Regions from separate parts of the Homo sapiens genome. Here regions 2 and 3 are each reported to be linked to region 1. The links are microRNA targets in miRTarBase. Many come from high-throughput screens and were not tested one by one. Region 1 holds a microRNA gene; each other region holds the end of a gene's coding sequence.

What was found. Region 1 holds the annotated microRNA hsa-miR-9-5p (UCUUUGGUUAUCUAGCUGUAUGA, at 1,753-1,775, shown strand). A microRNA usually pairs through its seed, bases 2 to 8, with sites in the 3' UTR of a target mRNA and lowers its output. Matches are read on the target gene's strand: a 7mer-m8 pairs with bases 2 to 8, a 7mer-A1 pairs with bases 2 to 7 and ends in A, and an 8mer does both.
Region 2: miRTarBase lists LRRTM1 as a target of hsa-miR-9-5p. The part of its 3' UTR that is shown has no 7-base or 8-base seed match.
Region 3: miRTarBase lists TESMIN as a target of hsa-miR-9-5p. The part of its 3' UTR that is shown has no 7-base or 8-base seed match.

Annotation. Positions count from the first base shown.
Region 1 is chr15:89,366,280-89,371,351 of GRCh38, forward strand. It overlaps MIR9-3 (microRNA 9-3), which reads left to right and starts at 1,738; the gene lies at 1,738-1,827. All of the region lies in intron 1 of MIR9-3HG (MIR9-3 host gene), which reads left to right. RefSeq lists enhancers at 1,345-1,958, 3,768-4,650, 4,651-5,072.
Region 2 is chr2:80,297,880-80,302,951 of GRCh38, forward strand. It overlaps LRRTM1 (leucine rich repeat transmembrane neuronal 1), which reads right to left. Exons shown (of 2, transcript NM_178839.5): 2 at 3,999-5,072. The coding sequence ends at 4,372. The region is part of intron 7 of CTNNA2 (catenin alpha 2); the gene reads left to right. Among named protein-coding and RNA genes, the nearest start is that of LRRTM1, 4.3 kb to the right of the region's middle.
Region 3 is chr11:68,703,923-68,708,994 of GRCh38, reverse strand. TESMIN (testis expressed metallothionein like protein) reads left to right here. Exons shown (of 10, transcript NM_004923.3): 10 at 495-1,555. The coding sequence ends at 687. Among named protein-coding and RNA genes, the nearest start is that of GAL, 22 kb to the right of the region's middle. RefSeq lists an enhancer at 1,518-2,276.

The DNA.
Region 1 (5,072 bases):
TCCACATGTGTCATTTTTAGGGGAGTGTATGGAAGGAAGAGATTTTTAGTAAAATCATGAAATCTTTTCCAAACCATCCACTTTTGGCCCCTTCTTTCCAACCCATCCTGCAAGGGTTTTACCTGGCTCAGAGTGGCCCAGTGCCCCAGACCCCACTAAAATGAATCTGCACGGGTACCTCCACCTAACCCCACAGTGCTCACTGTAGACAGCAGCAGTGAGAGTCTCTGTGACTCCCGTGTATTGACTGCTGGAATCTGGGAATCCACTTGCCCAGTCCCACATAAAATCTCTCCCTAGCTGTTGAGCTTAAGATTTTTCTGGGGGTATCTAGGAGCAAAGATATTGCATTTTTCATACTGAATCCTTTGCATCTTGGGGATGGCTGACAGGCGGAGGTGAATCATAGGGCTCAAGGCTGGAGGGTAGCCACAGCAGCAAGGAAGAAGGGGGTGATGGCTGGCATGAGCACGAAGTGGTACCCATAGGCCACTCACATCTGGAAGGCTGCAATGGTACCACCAATTCAGCTGCCAGCTCAGTTTAGGGGTGATTCCGGGAGACCCAAGGTGGCAGTCCCTTTCCACTGTTGCGGCTACTTGGAGTGAGTAGCCAGGTGTGTGCTGAGAGCTGAAGAAGGAGAGTGGAGGCATGGCTTTGTGCTTTAATTTTTGGTGAAATATGAATTTAACCAGGAGCCAAGAGAGAGCCTAGGACTTCTCCAAGGTGCTTGGCACAATCGGTTTTACACTCCTAGTGTGTCTAGGAACCGAGAGAGAGAAGGGACCTAGCAGCTTGGTACTCAGGGCCCAGGCCAGGGCCTCGCCCAAGTGGAGCATAGCTGAGGAACCTCTGAGTGCCAGGTGTTATGGGTGGGACACCGACCTGCGCTCACCGGGACACTTAATTCTTCCTCCAATCCCTGGTCTCTGCCGCGTGGGCTAGATCTACTGCAAGTGCTGGGCATGGGGAAAGGAAGAGAGAAGTTAAAGGTGAAATGGCTTCTGCTCTCGGCCTCTCCGTGAGCGCTCTCGGCCCTCCTGTGGAGATCGCCACGTCCTATCACACGCGTCCCTAAACCTTGTCACTCGAGCATTCTTGTCTCCCAAACTCTGATGGTCCGCAGTGGGTACTGGGCTCCCTGGGCCCTGGGAGGAAGACGGAGGAGTTTGGGTGAAAGATCAGACGGTGCGCAGCCCTGAGGCTTCTGAGGGCAGAGGGTGCGCTTCCTTGCCCTCGGGGCGGGGAAGCCGTGAACGCCGAGGCCATTGTAAGGCTGGGTGGTGCGGAGCGCGGGAAGGGGGCTGGGATTTGAATGGGAGCCTGTGATTGGCCGATCCCTGGACTGACGTCACTTCCCCGCGGGGCGATTAGCCTGCGAGAGGAGGGCCGGCGGTCCAGTGCGCTGGGGGCGGCCGGGGCGCTCGAGGCTCTCTAAGCGCTCCGCGCGGGTGCCCTACGTGAGCCCCGGGACGCCGTCGAGGCAGGCCGGCAGCGCCGGTGCCAGGACGCACGGAACGGGGAGCAGGGGAGAAATGCGCCGGGAGGGCGAGGGAGGAAGGGAACTGGGCGGGGGCTGCGGGCCTAGGTGGCGGGAGTCAGCGTGTGCGTGTGTCTGTCCATCCCCTCTGGCTCTCCGCGTGCGCCCCAGGATCCGGGCACGGCGTCCGCTCAGGCTCCCGCGCTCGGCAGGCAGCAGCACGTGGAGCCCACGGCGCGGCAGCGGCACTGGCTAAGGGAGGCCCGTTTCTCTCTTTGGTTATCTAGCTGTATGAGTGCCACAGAGCCGTCATAAAGCTAGATAACCGAAAGTAGAAATGATTCTCACAACTTCTGCGTGCGAGCGCCCGCCCCACCGACCGCCCCGGCCCGGCCCGCAAGAGCCAGAGGAGCCGAGAGGAGCCCAGCGCCGGCCCAGCGGACTCCAGCTCGACGGAGCGGCCGCGCCCCGACCAGGTACCTGACCTCGGCTCTCTCTCTGGGGACACTTGCAGTGCCAGCTTTCCCCCAGTCCTCCTCTTTCCTGGTCCCCCACCCCTATCCCCCAGCGCCGGAGCAGGAACCCCAAAGTGGAGCGGGCCGGGGAGAGGGAGGGGGTTGGGGTTGCAGAGGGGTCGCTGGAAGGGGAAGGCGCCAGCCTTCGCCTTCACCCCATAAATCAGGCTGGAACAATCCGCTCCCGGAGCCGTGGACGGGGATTTTGGGATGCAAATGCGATGGGAGAGAGACAGCGGTCGGTAGGGGGTGGGTGGAGGGAGTGAATGGGGTGGGCTGGGGGCTGCCCTGCCGCTAACAATGCGGCCTTTATCGAATTATTCGACGAGTCAGCCCCTGAGCGCCATTAGCATACGGCTGGGGGGTTGCCGGAGCTTCGCCCCTCGGTGAGGTCAAGTTCTTGATAATTTGATCACTTTTCACGGGCTCTGGCAGCTGCCTTTGTGTGCAGTTGGGGGGTCTGTGTGCAGCGTGAAGCGGAGCAGAACTGGCGGGGAGTGCGCTCAATGGCAAGGGGCCAGGGCAGGGGCCTCCCTCCCCGACGGGTCGGCCCTGCCCTGCATACAAACCAAGAGCCGGCGGGTGGGCGGGAGGAACCGAGCTCAGTCTCCCGCTACCTCTACGCCAGCCCCGACCGGGCTGCTCCTGCCCAAGCCTCCCCAACTTCCCGCGAGGTTAAGGTGCAGGCAAGCTCCCAGAGCTCCCCCTCCTCCCTGCCCCAAGAAGTCACGACATAAGATGTATTACAATGTCTAGCAAATAAAAAAGCAATTGGGGGAAATCTGAATTCGTTCCCATGGCAACCCAATGCAGCACACCCGGCCACTCAGGCTCCCAGCCCCTCTTAACTGGGCTCAGGGAGTGGGGCTTGCCCCTGCTCAGTGCGTGGGGGTCCCGGCCCCACACAGTGCTAGGGTCCCTCTCGAGTTTCTCATCTGCCTTCAGGTCACTTTCCACCCTGATGCCTTGGCTTGTCCTGAAGCTCAGGGCCCCTGTAGCTTGGGAAACCTCCCAAGCTCCCCAGCGAGTGGCTGTAGACCAAGGAAGGGACCCTGCCCGGCTTCAGGGAAGAAAGGAAGAAAGGTAGGCTCAGACTCCCCGATTGGTAGGGGGGCTTTCTAAGTATATGGGTATGTGAGTGCTATGATAGACAGGCTGAAAGGAACTGGCACCACCACCCAGCCCTGACCCCCATCCCCTCACCCTTTTACATGAGAGGAAACAGATCTGGGGATCTGAAGTGACTCCCTAAGGGTCACACAGCTCAGAAGGCAGAGCTGGACCCCAGGCCACCTTACGTACATCTTGGCTCACTTCACTCCCTGGAGCCTCTCCCTTAGTGATTTTCACGGCCCCTCTTCTCCCAGCCTTTGCCCAGCCCTCTTGTAAAAATAGAAATATTTTTTCCATCTTCACTCCTGCAAACCTTTTTTGTTCTTTGCCTAACAAAATTATTTTGAATATAGGGTATATATGTAAATGGTGAAAATTCAAACAGTACAAAAGGAAAACCCCTTGGCTCTGGGGAGGAGAACTGTGTGGCTGAGGTGGATGGTAGAGGGAGACTTTTCACTGTATACCTTTGGAATTGTGAACCCTGTGAGTGTGTTAGCATTCACAGTAAAATTAAATAAAAAATACACACAAAAGACCAGGCAGGGAAAGTCAGCTGCCCTCCTACTTTGGTCCCCGGTTCTCCTCAGAGATAATCATGGGCAGAAGGTTTTCTGAATCCCTTTGTACCCCACCTCCATTTTGAAAGGCCAGTTTCCCTTTTTTTCTGACAGGAGGCTGGTGAAGGGTGACTAGAGTGTTTCGGGATTCACGAGGCTATGGGCTGCATCCCTTGGGCCGTCCCTCCCTTCCCAATGCACCTGGGAGCCTGTGTGCTGATGGTGACCTCATTTCGGAGGAAACCGGAGCAGCACTTCCTGCCCCCTTGCCCTGCACTCCCTGCCTTCCTCCCTCACCGGCCAACGGGTGTGGGCAAACCCTGGGCCCCGGGCTTCGATCTTCCCCTCCCACCACCCCTACCCGTTTGCTGTGTTGCAAGAACTAGTCCTTCACTTGCCAGGGTGGCTTTGCAGCTTCCCAGCAGTGTCTACACAGTTCAGATGAGTGTTGTTGTTAAACACCACTGTCCCATACCATCTGGGCAGGTCTGAAACCCGAGTTGAGGGTCTGATGAAGGAGGAGTCTGTGCGGGAGGGCAACGCGGCATTTTCCCGCTTTCTACGAAAATCTGTTGATGCAAACCTCCCGCTTCAGAGAAAGATCGCGGCAGCAGGGCTGCGGAGGGCGATGAGCATGCCAGTTCTAATCTCCAGGAGCCCATCCCACACCTTCCTTAAACGGCCCTCGGAGAGAGGCCAGAGGCCAGAGGCCAACCCATCCGATTTCGGCCTCCTGGTACGAATGCCTGCCCCTACTAGAGCAATGTTCGAATCCCCTTTGGACACTTAAAGCCCAAGGCACAGACTCAAAATTGGTGCCTGGGCCCATCAACGTCTTCTGGCCTGCCTGGACCTGGAGTAGCCGGACGGGTCTGGGGCCTTCTCAGTCCCTCGTCTCCTCCATTCCTGTGCCCCAGGAAGGCCTTCCCCAAGCCTCCTCTGGCCACTGGCTCCCCACGTTTGGGCTTCATTTTTGTCTCCGGTTTGTGCTACTCTTTCTTCATCCAAAAAGGCGTTGGAGATCCCGAGAATCTGCTGCAGCTTGGAAGCCAGAATCTTAGAGAATCTCGGATACTTCTCACCCCATTCCTTTCATTTTACACCTAGAAATGGTGTAAAAAGGCCCAGTGGCTCACGGAAGGTCGCACAGAAGGCCACTGACAGGGCAGCGATCAGTACAGCCACCGTGGTGGGCGAGGCATCCGGGGCTTCCTTTTCTCTGGTCCACGAACTCCCAACTCCGAACGCTGTGGGACTGCATGGGCCTCTGCCCGGGCCAATGAAATGCGCTGCCGAGAGGAGGCTGCGGCGCGGCCTGAGGCCGGATCTCCACAGGCCGGAGAGTTCTCTGCCGGCCGCGGCCGGACCTCCCGGGAAATGGGACCAGAGCGCGGAGGGAGCCTG
Region 2 (5,072 bases), not on the chromosome of region 1:
TTCCTGAATAAAAGTTTGATTATGAAGAAGAAAGTATTAGGATGATTAGTGCTAGAAGGTAGTTACATAATGGTCACCTGCCTGCGCGTGTATGGGTGTGTGTGTGTGGTTATATATGTGTGTGTGTGTGGTACTATGTGGTTTTATATATTATATATTATATATATATATACACACACACACATGTGTGCATATTTGTGTGTGTGCTGTTATATATACAGAGATAGATTGAGAGGTAGGAGTGTGTGTGTATATTTCAGAAGCACATTTAATGGTCATATTCTAGCTAATTCCTTTTTTTTGACATTCTAAACCTATCTCAAAATATATTTCAGAAGCACATTTAATGGTCATATTCTAGCTAATTCCTTTTTATTTGACATTCTGTCAATGGCAGACCCAAATCAGCCAACATCGCCACTCATCTAGAGGAGATAATTTATGTTTATTTTGACTACCCTGAAACATTATGACACTCTTGCTCCAAAACAGATATAATTTCTGGTTCTTTGATAATTTTCTCTGTGAGAGGGGTATGTGATGATGTTCCTTCTACCATCTCATGTGATCCATCAATGCCCTGTTCTACTGGGCCATGTCAGATAGACTAGGCATCAAACTTGCTGACAAGTCGACTAAAATAAGCCGGAAACACAAGTGGCCCCTAATCCTACCAGAGATCTGTGTGTACTTGCTTGGAAAACTTGGGAGGAATAACAAGTGGCATTTGCCCCTCTGATTACTTACATATACTCATAAATGTGTTGTTGATGCTAAATCATACCAAATGTCTGCCTTCTTGAAGGCAGAGAGAAAAGGTTGGGGGCTCTTCTACTTTGATGAGTTCAGAAGAATATTTTTAAATGGTTGAGAAAACTATTTCCTTTTACTGGAATAACCTTTCCTTTGCGATGGTAACTTTGTAGTCTTGGGAGTATAGGCTGCATTGTGGGTAGGTGGTCTCAACTATTAATATCAAGGCTAAGATCTGAGCATCAGGGACTGCCTATTTTTTCTGAGTGCAGCAGAGGACAGGTCTCATTTAACCTGCTTCCTCTGGTCCAACCTAAAAAACTACTAGGGCTAAGACTGGTGTGAGAGTGTCATTTGTCATGTGAAAAGACTTTTTTTCTATATAAATATTCGAAAAACCTCAATACCACTGCTGAACTTTAATCAGCTGGGAAGGTACTGCAAATGGAGGGTCAATCCATCACAATGCCCAGGACGAGACGTGAATTGTGGCCTTAAGTTCTTTTCAGATAGCACAGCATAATGAGATTAGCACCCTCTGTGGGAAGAATAAAAAAAAGGTGCTACACCTTTAAAAATTAGATTCTCTTTTAAATGCTTAGTAGTTTGCTTAGAGGGGTCAGAGCAAGTTTCTTGAAGCTTAAAGATTAATTAATTTGAGAAAGAAAAGATTTCAAGTGTTACAAAACCTTAGTTAAAACTACCACTTTCCCTTATTCCTGCCGTTTCCCCCCACCTCCCCCCACCAATCTCCAGAGCTAGAGGCACAGGGGCATGAAATGATGTGAGCTAAATTCCCGTTTGTGTAGACAACGTTTGCTTGCCTACAAAGACACACAACGCAGAAACATACAGACACACACACAAAGTAAGAACATAGCTTTCTATGGTCATCATTTGCTCTTAAGCTCCCAGATTGCAGATTCCTCTTTCCAATGGTTCTTCATGAAATGCGTATGGACTTAAGATCTTCTACATACATGATGTTTAATCATGGGCAGGGTGGGAGGAGTAGCATAAAACAAAGCACGATTATTCTCTCTCTGTCTTATGGCCACCTTGAAACAAGAAGAGTGAAAGATAAAAATGTCTTGGGGATAGGAGATAAACTACAGTTTCCAATATTCAGATTTCTAGAGGGTAGGAGGGGACTTGTGGTTCTGATGCTTGCCAGAAAGGTTTTGCTTCTGAAAGCTTTCCCTGTAAGCACACCCACACAGCTCTTTAATGCACCAAGCCAAAGCAGCTTTGGGCGCTGGATTCCTGTAGCCTTCCTATGAGATGGTTAAGTTCACGGAATCCAAGGAGCCCTCCTTCAGTTGCTACATTTTTTGTTTTCTAAAAAAGGTATGCCGTCTTCTAGAGGAGGTCGCTTTAGTAGGGTTTTAGGTAAGGCACATCCCTGAGAGAATCTTTTTCCTGCTACCCCTGCTCTTGGAGTGGTATGCTATTTAGAAAGGCAAACCCAAATGATTATGCTTAAATTCAAAACCCCCTCCTCAAAGTTATCAAACAAAGCACCTCTCTTCTAGAACACTAATAGTCTGAATGGGTGTCATGTGCATGATGTGTGTCATAATGTCATGTTTTAATTATAAATAAAGCAAGATGAAGTTTCCTGGCCAGGAAAAATGAGCTGGGGTGTTGGGGTGTGTGTGTGTGTGTGTGTGTGTGTGTGTGTGTGTGTGTGTGTGTGTGTGTAAGAAGCTGTCTCCCAGGGCTTAACATCTTAAAAGACATTTGCAAAATATTTCTCTTGAAAGAGACTCTTAGAAATACTATTTTTAGGCATACTGGTTTCTCCATAGGTAAAAGAGAAACCTACCACCAACCCTTAGCTTAAGGAAACCTTCTGGTGATACCATTCTGCATTTCAAAAAGCTGATTTTGCCTCCTAAGATTGGTAGCTGGAGACATTTGCATGTTGGGGGATGGTAGTGTGTGGTTCCCCATCCCCCCATTCCCTCTTCCTGCTATTTGGACTTCTCTCTCTCAAAAAAAAGGAAAAATAAAAACAGAAAGATGCAACTCTTTAGTGTCCGTTAGAGAGGGAAGAGAAAGACTTAGGGACATGGGCTACATTGGTTCAGCATCTGTCATCCATGACAGTTTATTTCAATCATACATTTGCTTAAATTGTCATCTGATGAAGGAGCCCTCCGTCCAATGCACACAGCCTTCCCCTTCCCTTCTCTGCACCCACCAACTGCCACTACCACCACCTCCTCACTCTTTAGTTCAATAGAAACTGAAATCTCAATGATGGACCTGGAAACCTATGAGGGGTGAGAAGGAGCAATCATCACTCTCAACACAGAAAAAAAAAAAAGGGAAAGCAAGCATTACACAAAAGGGCCATCTGAGAAGAGGCAGCTTTTCTGTCCTGGGTTAACAAATTATTCCCATCTCAGAAATATGCAAACACAGGATCAAATGAGTATCTTCTCCCACTCTCCCCACCCCATCACTGCTCTGTCACCTCTGCCCCTAAAGTCTCTTGCTACAAGTCATTACCCTGCAGGCATTCATCCTAAGGTAGGTTTTTCTCCTCATTCCCCATAGAAACTAGGAATGTGCTGTCACTGTTTGGGAGCCTAAGCTTGCTGCAGTCTTAGCAATGTGCTCCAGAAGCACAGCTTTCAGCCCTAAACATCGGGATTCTGCCTCCTTCCCCTCAGCCAGACCAAAGAGAGCAGTGAGCTGAGGGGCTCCCTTTAACAGGGGGTACAAGAAGGGCACAAATGCTACTAAGTCTGGTGAATCAAAGACTCAGGAGAATTAAGAACAGGTGGCATTTGGGGATGAGATTTTGAGGTGATTTGAAAGATGGTTACATTAAGTGCAAAAATGTTTCGTGTTCCTAGGAGAAACTGTCTGGCATTGCTTTTTAAAAACCATTTGCAATGCTCTCTGCTTTAAAGGCTGAGTAAGGGTGCCCAGTCCTCAGTCCACCTCTCAGTTGCCTGAAGGTGGTTAGATTGCACTGTCCCTGCCCCAGTAATATAAAGGGTCTTGCAGTTTTTCTTTTTCTAGTCCTTACACATGTGGAGTAAATTAACATAAATCATTAATCTGATAAGCTTTCTTTGCCCTTCTTTAAAATTTCAAATTGAATCTGACTACGTTGCTCCTGGATTTTCCTTCTGGCCCCTGGACAACTCCCTCCCCACCCACCAAGGAAATTTTAACTGTTGCTTTTCTTGTAACACAGGTAACAATTCATTTAGGTTACACCAGTCTGTAAAAACTGTAAATGCTATTTTATTTTAAACATTTTAGTTTACAAAAAAAAAAAAAATCAATGATTGGTACCTTTTTTACACTCTCAGATTCCTGAATATGGACAGATCTTCAAAGGGAGGAAGGAGTTCTCATATGAAATTTAAGATAGACTGTCCTGAAGGTTGTGGGGTGGGGTTTTTTGTTGTGTTTTAATTCGCTTTTGTTTTTAAGACACAATAAAGCTAAAATGTCAAGTCTCTGGGAGAGATCCCCTTAAAGTTTCAGTCAAGGAGCATATCAGAGCACAGACAAGGAGACCCCAGCCTGGTGCCCGCCGGCCCGTCCCGGCTGCCCAGGCGTATTTGGTAGCGCATGGGTTGAGAGCCACTGGGACAATCACACCTCGCATTCCCTCGCGGGCTGCTGGTGGCAGGTACACGAGCCATACTCGTTGATGATCACCAGGGCTCCCTCAATGTGGTTCGGTTTGTAATCAACGTAGTATTCCTGGGCAGACATGGCAGCCATCTGATGCATGGTCTGTTTCTGCTTTTGCTTCCTGCGCTGCGTGACAAAGCACTGTCTGAGCTGCCTGAGGCTGGCTGGGAAACACTTCCAGGACACGTAGAGCACCAGGACCACGATGAGGAAGGAGAAGATGAGGGCCATGGTGCCCGTGACCACCTTGTGGATCTGCACGGCGTTCTCGGCGTGCTCGCCGCCTGGAAGAGCCACGGTGGCAGGCTCGAATGTGCCGTCGTGCTGCCCCTCCCCGCCGTCCGCGAGCGTGGTGGCCGAGCTGGCAGGGGGCCCCAGATCACTGCGGTTGGTGACGGCCGAGAGCAGGTGGCCGCTGGTGGGCTCGGCCCCATCCTCGCACAGGTGGAAGGCGTACACGGCGTCCAGGACGTCCTCGCCCTGTGCGTACTCCGGGCTGGCGCACTGCAAGTTGCCATCGTAGCGCCCCTGGAAGTTGTTGAGCCACGAGGCTAGGGCACACACGTTGCGCCCGCAATCCCACAGGTTCCCGGCCAGGGTGATGCTTGTCAGGGACTTCCAAGAGTTGAGGATCCGGGGCTCGATGTAGGTGAGGCGGT
Region 3 (5,072 bases), not on the chromosome of region 1:
CAGATCATGAGGTCAGGAGATCGAGACCATCCTGGCCAACATGGCAAAACCCTGTCTCTACTAAAAATACAAAAATTAGCCAGGTGTGGTGGTGCATGCCTGTGATCCCAGCTACTCAGGAGGCTGAGGCAGGAGAATCACTTGAACCAGGGAGTTGGAGGTTGCAGTGAGCCGAGATCGTGCCATTGCACTCCAGCCTGGCAACAGAGCAGGACTCAGTATCAAAAAAAAAAAAAGGGTCTCACTTTGTTGCCCAGGCTGGTCTCAAACTCCTGGCTTCAGACCATCCTCCTGCCTTGGCCTCCCAAGGTGCTGGGATTACAGACCACTGTGCCCAGCCTAATAGTTTCCAGTATGAGGAAGACAACGTTAGATTTTAGTGGATGATGTTCTTTAAAATAGCATGGACAAGCAATGTTCTGTTGAATATAAATAGTACTGTAGGTAGAAATGGTGCACTGTTGAGCGGCCTTTAACTGCTCTGTTTCTGACAGGCGGCCTTCCTCATGCATCTCCTGGGAGGTGGTGGAGGCCACATGCGCCTGCCTGCTTGCTCAGGGAGAAGAGGCCGAGAAAGAACACTGCTCCAAGTGCCTGGCAGAGCAGATGATCCTGGAGGAATTTGGAAGGTGCTTATCACAGATTCTCCACACTGAGTTTAAATCTAAGGGATTGAAAATGGAGTAGAGTATAAAGTGTGAATGCATGTTGATTTTGTCTTAGTCTAGAAATCTCTAGTTTAGAAAGGATGTTTAGGGGAACATGAGGCTGGCTCTGCAGCAACAACCAGGCTCCCCTGCATCCCTGGGCCCAGGGAGTTTACTCAGAGCTCTCTGAAGATGTGGCAACCCATGCCCCCTTTTCTGAGGAGGTGCATGGCCTGAGCATTGTTTGTCTGGCCCAGAGGAGAGAGCTTGGGTTCCCATAGTCCTGGGAGAGTGTCTGCAGGGCGGCGGAGGGCAGAGCAGGGCAGGGGAGGGCACAGCAGGCCCTGCGAAGGGCAGAGCGGGGCAGGGGAGGGCAGAGCAGGCCCTGCGGAGAGCTCACTCTGGTCGACTCTTCCTCTCAGAGAATGTTGCTCTGGAGGCTGCTCTGCATGAAAACCCTAATGGTTTCTTGTTTGTTTTTCAAATTATTTAGAAATAAGTTCTCCGGATGGGCTGTTGTGATACCACTTAAAATCTCTAGAGAACTACTGAACACCTAAAGATTTTCTGTAGCGTAGATATTTCCCCAGAGGCACGCGAACTGTCAGTCTTTCCTAAGGCCCCCGGGAGACGCAGGCAATGGGGCCTCGCAGGCCAGGCTTGCACCAGCATGTCTTGAGTTAGAGGACTTAAAATTATCCAGTTTCTTCTGTGTTTCTACTTGAATTGTGGAAAAGCTCTATTATCCAATTAACTTCTCCATAATTATTGTTGTAATATTATTATTGTTTGTAAAACATGGTTCACATAACTAGCTTGTGGAAACCAGCAGGTAAAATGAATTCTTAAGTTGACGCTTTTGGTTCTGTTGTAAAGCAAAGATGAATAAAAATTTCCAATGTCTTCAATTGTTGTCATTAACTTAGTAACTGAAAATGTGTTCATCTGATGAGTACCCACCCTGAAATGTATTGAGAGAATATTCTTTCATGTTTCTGCATTCATTACTAGTGTTGGCCACTTAGAGGGTGTTCAGGAAACTCAAGTACAAATGCAGCAGAGACAGAAGTGTGGCTGCCGGGCCCAGGCACTGGGCACATAAGTGAGCAAGCAACCAGGGAGGAAGCTGTCTTTTGTGGAGCTGTCTGGAACAGTCTAGTTGCAAACACAGCCACAGGAAGCCACAGAGGAGAAAAGGAAGACTGAATTCTTCCCCTTTGCAATTCCCTTTGGACCCCTGGGATCCAGAGTCTGTGGCAGAAAACCAGAGGTAAAGACATGCATTGTGAGACGTGGAACCCTCAGCCAGCCGTACACCCCACTTGCTGTGTGTGCTTTCAGTCCTGTCAGCATCGCGGCGAACAGGGAGGCGCACTGCTGGGGGAGCCACCTGGCCTCCTTCACCCTTGGGAGCTGGAAGGTGACCTGGAAATGGGGACTTTGGGAGCTGCCTCTGGGGGGGCTGCCTCCATCCTGCTGTCCCTCTCGGCAACACTGCCAACAGCAAGATCTGCCAGCCACATGAGTACTGTTAAAGTTTCTAGTAGCTACATGTAAAACTTTGAAAAGGAGCAGGTAAAATTAGTTTTAATAATCTTTTATTTATCCCAATGTATCCAAAATACTATCGTTTCAATGTGTAATCAGAATGAAAATGATTGAGATTTCACATTCCTTTATGTGTACCCAATATTTGAAATGCAGGGTGTCTTGTACTCACAGCAGGTCTCAGTTGGCACCAGCCACACCTTAAGGGTTCGGGCGCCTCAGCACAGCCCTGGGGCACCGAGTGGAGGGAGGAAAAGGGAACAATGTCCTCCAGCATTCTCCTGAGGCAACGGCTGCCTAGGGAGATCCTGAACCAGGTGTGGCCCACCCGCGGAGCCCAGAGGAAGTGTGAGCAGGGAACTCAGTGTGGGGCTGGGGATACAGGCCCCCCACTTTGCACAGGAGCCTGCGCTGGCCAAGGATGCTCTGACTGTGGCCAGGTGTACTGAGCTAACGCCTGGAGGTGAGGGAAGAGCCAACCTGGGCAGGCACGAGCCCTGCAGGGTCTTCCGGCAGAGAAGAATTCACTGAGTAGGTGCCACTTGCAGGGAATCCCGTCTGAGAAGTGAAAGCCGAGATACAGACGTGCATAAAGCCACTATGCTGACCAGAGACAGTACAGAAGATGACTACAAAGCTAGAAAATCCCATCTCTTATGTGTTTGGCGGAGAGCCAGTGCTATTTTAAAACGATATACAAATTAACATATCATGTTCTTATTTGAGAGTGTAGCTGTGCAAATTTAACCATATCTTTTTTTTTTTTTTTTTTTTTTTGAGACGGAGTCTCACTCTGTTGCCCAGGCTGAAGTGCAATGGCGCGATCTCGGCTCACTGCAACCTCCGCCTTCTGGGTTCAAGTGATTCTCCTGCCTCAGCCTCCTGAGTAGCTGAGATTACAGGCGCGCACCACCACGCCCGGCTAATTTTTGTATTTTTAGTAGAGGTGGGGTTTCACCATGTTGGCCAGGCTGGTCTTGAACTCCTGATCTCAGGTGATCCGCCCCCCTGGGCCTCCCAAAGAGCTGGGATTACAGGCGTGAGCCACCGCGCCCAGCCTTAACCATATCTTTCTACTCTGTACCTACTAAATAACTCGGACCACCTTTGTGATTAAGGTTAGATTATCTGTTGGTTTTGGGTTTTTGTTTTGTTTATCCGAAAGAAAAAAAAACCTTGTTTTTTCATAGACACGGAGAAGAAATCATTGTTTAGAATGACACGCGCTGAAATCGCTCTTTCCTGTCAGTGAACACAGGCTGCGCACTGCACAGAAAGTCTGGCGGCCAGGGAGCATCCTTAGGAGAGAAGGTGCTGTTGGCGGCGGAAGGTCAGCAGAAGGCTTGGTGTATTTTTCATCTCGGCTTGGATGCTCCTATCCCTTTACAAACCTCTCACCAGTACCTGAAGTTCTGCCAGCACTGGTCCCCTTTCAGTGTGGGCGCGGTTTCAAACCATAATAAACAAGTTATCGTAAGGAGTCAGTTAAAATACTGTCTTAGGGAATTCAAAGGTTGAACCCTCATCCAAGATAAAATGATCAGAGCAGCCAGAGGATCCAGAGAGCAGGAGGGGGCGCAGAAGACGAAGCAGGGAGGAGGCCTCCCGTTCTGCAGGCGGCGCGCTCTTTAGGAAGGCACCGGGCACAGCTTTGTGCATGGGGCCGGCTGTGCGGTCTCCGTGCTGCACTCTCTCCCCAGGAGTCCTTAGCCTCAGAGGAGGGAGGAAGCACGACAGGAGGGATCACCGTGAGGCATCTTCCCCCAGCCCTGCCTCCATCCTGCTCCCAACCCCCGGCCCCCGGCAGAGACTGGAGAGCCACAGGGAGCACTGCCCGGCCCCAGCCACCGATAAAACTGGAATTGAAGACTGTCATTGCATGGATGTTCTCTTCATATATTTAAAAATGACTATCAGGAAAAAGTTTGAGCCTCCTAAAAATGGTAGCTGGTTTGTTTTTCAACAACAAACTTTAATAAAAACTTTAATGTTTGATATTTTAAATTTTGCCTTGACTTTCAGGAAATTCAAAAGTAAATCTATTCAATACCAGAAATCACATTAGCCCAGGTTTAGGATTAACTGTCCCTCTCTTTTTTCCATAAAGCTTTACTTTTTTAAACATGCTTTTTATTTGTACTATTACATACATCTTTTACTGTAAACCATTTCATATGTTTGTTGGAAATAGATGGACTATAGAAACATTATTACCGAATTATGAAGACAGAGTCTGCAGTGACAACCTTTTTAATGATGATTCCCTAGAAATATATATATTTTAATAGAGGCAGAGTCTCACTCTGTTGCCTATGCTGTAGTGCTGTGGTGCGATCATAGCTCACTGCAGCCTCAAACTCCTGGCTTCAAGCAATGCTCCCAGGTAGCTAGAACTACAGGCTCACACCATCATACTCAGCTAAGTTTCTGTATTTTTATTTTTTGTAGAGACAGGGTCTTGCTATATTGCCCAGGCCTCAAACTCCTAGCCTCAAATGATCTTCCCTCCTTGACCTCCTGAAGCACTGAGATTACAGGTGTGAGCCACCATGCTGGGTCTCTATTTATTTATTTTTTTTACTAGAGTATTTTTTAGGGTAGTTTTAGGTTCACAGCAAAACTGAGCAGAAAGTGCAGAGATTTCCCATATAATCCATGCCCCCCAACACCGCAGCCTCCCCACTACCAACATTCCTCACCAGAGCCGTCCTTTTGTTACAACTGATGAACCTACAGTGATACACCATCATCCAAAGTGATACACCACAAACCCAAAGCCCATGCTGACGTTAGGATTCCCTCTCGTTATTCCACATGCTATGGGTTTTGACAAATGTACAATGGCACATATCCAGGGTTACAGCACACAGAACAGTC